Linked DNA regions of Homo sapiens. The protein of the gene in region 1 purifies or fractionates together with the protein of each later gene. This does not show direct contact. Each region holds a gene or a part of one and is shown on either strand. Other genes may lie near its edges.

What was found. Proteins that work in one complex are often made in the same cells at the same time.
Region 2: the proteins of CNPPD1 (region 1) and SLC27A2 purify together in Homo sapiens (affinity purification with mass spectrometry; 2 studies listed by BioGRID and IntAct, with this or other methods). This does not show direct contact.

The regions. Positions count from the first base shown.
Region 1 is NC_000002.12:219,171,397-219,173,925, forward strand, and holds the end of CNPPD1 (protein CNPPD1), read right to left. Parts: intron 2,072-2,529; coding exon 1,954-2,071; intron 1,733-1,953; coding exon 1,190-1,732; 3' UTR 501-1,189; downstream 1-500.
Region 2 is NC_000015.10:50,188,696-50,192,195, reverse strand, and holds part of SLC27A2 (long-chain fatty acid transport protein 2), read right to left. Parts: intron 1-3,500. UniProt on the Homo sapiens protein: Mediates the import of long-chain fatty acids (LCFA) into the cell by facilitating their transport across cell membranes, playing an important role in hepatic fatty acid uptake.

The DNA.
Region 1 (2,529 bases):
CAGACTGTTTTCCTTCCTCCAGTGATGACCCAGCCTTGGAGTTCTTCAAGTTCTTGGAATTGTTAAGCACCATGTGACCATCACCATGTGTCAGACCAGTGAGGAGGTCAGGAGAGAGAAGCGTCCTCGTGGCTTGCCCTCAGGAGCTCACAAGGCTCTGCTGGTTACAAGGCCTGGCCCCTCTCCACGAGATGTGCTTTGGGATCCACAAGGAGAGTGCTTACCCAGAACAAGTGACAGACAAGGCCAACTCAGGGACAGGACAGTCACCATGTGTGTCCCATGGCATCCCAAGTTGAGCAGTGCTAGGGCCCAGGGTCCTGGGAGCAGGAACAAAGTTGGAAATGGAAGCCTATGCCTATCAAACGATAGGAAAGTCCTGAGATGAGGCTGAGAAAACAGTTTGTGAGATGACAGGATCAGGAAGCAGGGAGGCTTGGAAGGCAGATACAGGGAGGAAAAATCTTCAAGGGCTGCCGCAGAAGGAAAAGTCCAGGCCATGCAACTGAAACTGTTTATTGAAACCTCAGTTCTACAAAAGCGTGAAAAACCCTGATACAAAGCAGTGGCCAGAGAGGCCTGGGAAGAGAATACCTGGGAGAAGAACCAGAAGAGAGGGAAACCTAGGAGCAGGACACTAAGAGAAGACTGGAAGACAAAAGATCAGGGTTGAAGGTCCCAGCAGTCCTTGGCTCCATTAGACTAAAGCTAAGGAATGGGAGTGAAAAGGGTTCCCTGCCTCACCCAGCAGCTCCCACCTGAACCCATCAGTCCCCGGCTCTTCTGCCTCAGGGACATCACACAGGCCCATGCCAACATTTCCTTTCTCCTCTCACCCCACTTCCCTTATCTCCCACCTATACTCTTCCATCCTAGGGAAATCAAAAGTAAAAGTCTAAAAAATCCCAGGGAGGCAGAGAGGGGCTTCTATGTCCATCTGGGACATGTCCCTGGTCACCAAGCGGAAGCTCTCCCTGGCGGCATCACTGTCCTGGCCAAGCAGCCAGCCACTGCGATCTAGGAGTGAATTACCTTCAGTCCTTCTGCCCCACCACCCCATAAGCTCCCACCCAGGAGGACAGGGGACCTGCCAAGGACCCAGCGAGGCAGACAGGATCTGAATCAAGCTTTGCTCCTCCAGGTTCTCAGAAACTCCCAAACCCTCTTAATGCATTCCTCACAGCCCTACCTAGCCTGGGAAAACGAAAGACTTGAGGCGAGCCAGCTCCATGACACTGAAAAGGGAACATTGCTGAGGCTGAGGAAGTGAAAGGAGCACCGGGCTCCAAGGCCAGGGGGGAGCCAGGCCATAGGTATGGTACCAGGGGCTGGACAGCGCAGTGGGGACTGTACGGTTGGGGTGGAGGCAGGCATGGCAGGTTGGGGAGTCTCTCTGGAGCTTCTGGCAAAGGTGGCAGTTATGAAGAAGAGTGGGAGGGGCAGGGGGGTCTGGGGGAGGCAATGGTGGAGGAGTCAGTGAGGCCAGAAGACTGCCCCAGAGTGACCGCAGCCCCATGCTGCCTTCCAGGCAGCTGGAGACATTAGCGAGAGACGGCAGGCATTGTGGCACAGAAGGTATGCAGGGCTCCAGGAGGCAACGGGAGGTCAGTCCAAGGTCAGGCGGCCCAGGTGTAGGGATGCAGGACAGCCCCAAAGACTGATGTATTACGGCCACCGATGCCACAGCCAGGGCCACACTGCTCACATATGCCACAGCTAACAGGCAAGACAGCTGCAGGAGAGGAGATAAGAAAGAAGGAATCTGTCTTTAACACATTCACCCCTTGTCTCTAGAAATCTGTGTTCCAGTTGGAGGTCTCTATAGCCATTTACACCCCACTCTGCCCATCTATTCCCAACCCCATCTCCTGGGCTTTTCAGCAATCACTTCACACCATCCCACCCTACACACCGGCCTGCTCAAGCTCCCTATCCTTCCGAGCCCCTCCTCACCTTTACCAGCCGCTGGCAGAGGGAGCCCAGGGCCAACTGCCAGGTCGGCTGCTCCAGCAGCACACACAGGTCTGTGTAGGTGTACCAGCCTCGCCACCGTCCCTGCTGCTCAGCCACACTGGGGGAAGTGGAGAAATGACAAGAGTATGCAACTGTCCTGCAGCCAGCCCAGTGGCACCCTCATACCACTCAGGACCCACCAGGAAACACTGGGAAGCCTGTTAAACCCAGATTCCTAGGCTATCTGCTGATCTAGAAACTAAGGGTGAGACCAAGACCTATATTTTATTTATTTTTATTTATTTATTTTGTTAAGACAGGATCTTGCTGTCTCCCAGGCTGGAGTGCAGTAGTGCAATCATAGCTCACTGCAGACTCAACATCCTGGACTCAAATGATCCTCTTGTCTCAGCCTCCTGAGTAGCTGGGATTATGGGTGTACACCACTGCATCTGGCTAGTATTTTTTTCTGGTAGGGTCAGGCATCTTGCTATATTGCCCAGGCTGGTCTCGAACTCCTGGACCCAAGTAATCCTCCAGCCTCACCCTCCCAGAGTGCTAGGATTATAGACATAA
Region 2 (3,500 bases), on another chromosome or scaffold:
AAGAAATTTGAAAGGAAATTCTGGATGTGAATCTACCTGTCAACTATCTAGTTGATATTTAATGTCTTTTATTTTCTTGAGTCTTTTGTAGATATGTTTGGGCCTACATATTTTCTTTTTTCTTTTTTTTTTTTTTGAGATGGAGTCTCACTCTGTCATCCAGGCTGGAGTGCAATGGCGTGATCTCAACTCACTGCAATCTCTGCCTCCTGGGTTCAAGCGGCTCTCCTGCCTCAGCCTCCCGAGTAGCTGGGATTACAGGCGGCTGTCACCATGCCCGGCTAATGTTTGTATTTTTAGTAGAGATGGGGTTTCACCAATTTGGCCAGGCTGGTCTTGAACTCCCAACCTCAAGTGATCCGCCCACCTTGGCCTCCCAAAGTGTTGGGATTACAGGCATGAGCCACTGCCTGGTTGGCCTACATATTTTCTAATGCAAGCATAAAATATCTATCTACCTTTTATAATTTTTATTGTAAAGTCTGCTCATCTATCAATCAGAACATGTAAGCTCCTATAATTCTATTTGTCAAGGTTGGGTTCTCTGAGACTCCGAGATGTGCATGCAGGAGTGCTCTTGGGAATGGGACCTGTGAGGCTGCAAGGGAAGCAGACTGGATAGAGGGAGACATTGAACTGTAATGCAGTCACAACAGAAGTCTCCCTCAGCAGATCCTCTAATCCTAAGGGGACTCTGGACCTGGGATGCCCTTCAGAGTTACCTCCTAAATTAAGGGAGGTAGGCTGTGCCTTCACACCTGCCCATTGACCAGTCCAATGGACTCAGGCTGGGGTGGTGGTGCTTAACCTTGGGCAAAGTGTCTCTCTTCAACCAAGGAGAAGTCCTGGGAGAGGTCTCAGCTGAGAGCTCCCAGCAGCTGAAGAGTGAGTCCGTCAGTCCTAAAGCAGGGATCTGGGTGGCACATCAGAGCATGCACCCACCTCTCTCTTTACTAATAACAAACATTTAAAATTTTCATTTGCATAGAACTGTTGGTATAGTTTTACATACATCACTTCACATAATTTTCATAACAACTCTGTGATATAGATACCAGTAATCTTATTTCTACAAATGAGAAGAGGCTCACCAAGTCAGTGTATGGAGGGTCACATGCAAAATGAAAAGAATCATTCTGGGCTTCTGAGGTTCCCACCTCCTTGTATGAGCCATTCAGATTAAGTTCTAGCAAAGTGCCTTATTTCTTGGAAGAGGCTGGCTGCTTGGCCTTCTGCTCAGTGCTTGTTCAATCATGTGGATCTGCATTTAATGAGTAACATGGATGATCTTTTCTTGAAGAGCAAAACCTCAAGCTTTATTAAAAGTTTGAGTATGAGAAACAGTGGTCACAGAAAGTTGCCTGAAGGGTGTAGAGCAGCTCCATCAGTCGGTTCTTCATCAGTCTAGTTTTAAGTTGTAGACTGAAATAAACCCACAGAGAAAGAGCACACACTTGGGTGTTGAAAAATCAAGTGATTACAACACTACTCCCCCATCCCCTTTAAAGTCTGTTCAAAGAAAATTTTAAAAAATTAAGGTAGCATATTAAGTCTGCCCCTGCCTTTTTTTTTTTTTTTAAGGAAAAAGGAAGAATTTTCTGAATAAACAAGTCCATTGCTAGAAGGCAGAGAGATTGGGTAGGTGGTGAGCTGAATCAATCTTCATTACTAAGGTGTCAGGTGCTCAGGCTAAACCTGCAGCTTTCCAATAGGAAAACATTCAGTCTAGTAGCTTGTTCTGCTACTAGACTGCCTCAGTGAATGAGTAACTGACTGGATTAAACAAAACACCCCAGAAATATTTACCAAGAAGGTAAGGTCCAAAAGGAAGGTAGTGAAAGGAAATGTACTCTGATCATGAAATGGTTGGTTGATGAGCAAGTCAAGCTTGAAGATTTATCTCTTTTCTTCATTCAGAAAAGCAACTGAAATGCAAACTGGTGCTATTAATAACATAGTCCTTGAAGACAACCTAAAAATAGTTCCTAAAATGCCATTTGTAACTGTAATTTTGCATCTCAATCATTGGCAGTTTGGAATGACAGTATTTTGTACAGCAAGATGATGCACATTATAATACTATATATAGAGAGAGAGACATGCATGTGCTCCTCCTTCTTCCCCACACAAATCACCCGGAGGTCATAAAAATGTTTAAGTTCCACCAGGAGTAAGCAAAAATTTAACAAGGAAATACATACTCATTTTACATTTAGGTAATTAAGTAGTAATCTCCTTGATGTTAATTTTTATTTCTCCAAGTTAAAGTTCTTGCTTATATGAACTCTTGCTTTCTAAATAGCCCTGGAATCAAAGGTAATTCCTTATCATGAGTTACCAGGTCACATAAGGCCTTACATAATTGTTAGCATTTGATATCTGTAAGCAACCATGTCATCTTTCTACCAATGATCTACTTCCCTTTTCTCAGAGGCTGTGGGAAGGTCCTTTTCAAATACTAGCACCTATTATATAGAATAATCTGAACTCTATCCTTCTCTTTCAGATTCAATAACAACACCTGATTCAGAGTTTGTTTTTACCTCTTCAGTCCCTGTTTCTGAAGAAAATAAAGTGCATTCCCATATATGCCAGCAAAGTGCTAGTTTTGTTCTTGGATGGAGATGTACAATCACCTCCTTTGCAAGCTTTAGTTAAGAGCAGGGAGAGAAGAAAAATCTTAGAGAATATCTTTAAGCTATCTTTCCTTGGGCTACTAGGCTGGGAATCCCAGCCCTTGGATATATTAATCATTTGGTGTCTGGGTTTCTGTCCTTGTACAGGGTCCTCCACCACCCTACTCACAGGTCCTTTCCAGCCCATCCTGTGCTCACCACCTGCTTACTTGCTGCACTGAGACCCAAGGAGAGCACCGCTGTCCTACCATGTACTGCCAGAGAGCTGGACAGAGTCATTGATTAGGAGGACCTTTGAGAGGTAAGTAAGCCTGTGGTAGGGTAAGGCTGGGCCTGGGGTAGATTGAGTTTAAATGGATTTTTTCACATCTGATTTTGTTACATCATTTTTCAGGCCCTCATGCCCAACCCAGTGGTCCTTAAGCTTCAGGAGAGAAAGCCTGTCACAATCAACCAGAATAATGGAACCCATTAATTCAACAGACATTATCTATCCATTATGTATGTATGTATGTATGTATGTTTGTATGCATCTATCTATCTATCTATCTATCTATCTATCTATCTATCTATCTATTTATCTATCTATCTATCTACCTATCTAGACAGTCTCACTCTGTCATCCCGGCTGGAATGCAGTAGTGTGATCTTGGCTCACTGCAACCTCCACCTCCCAGGTTCAAGTGATTCTTGTGCCTCAGCCTCCGGAGTAGCTGGGATTACGGATGCCCGCCACCATGCCCGACTAATTTTTGTATTTTTAATAGAGACAGGGTTTCGCCATGTTGGCCAGGCTGGTCTCCAACTCCTGAACTCAGGTGATCTGCCCATCTTGGCCTCCCAAAGTGTTGGGATTACAGGCAT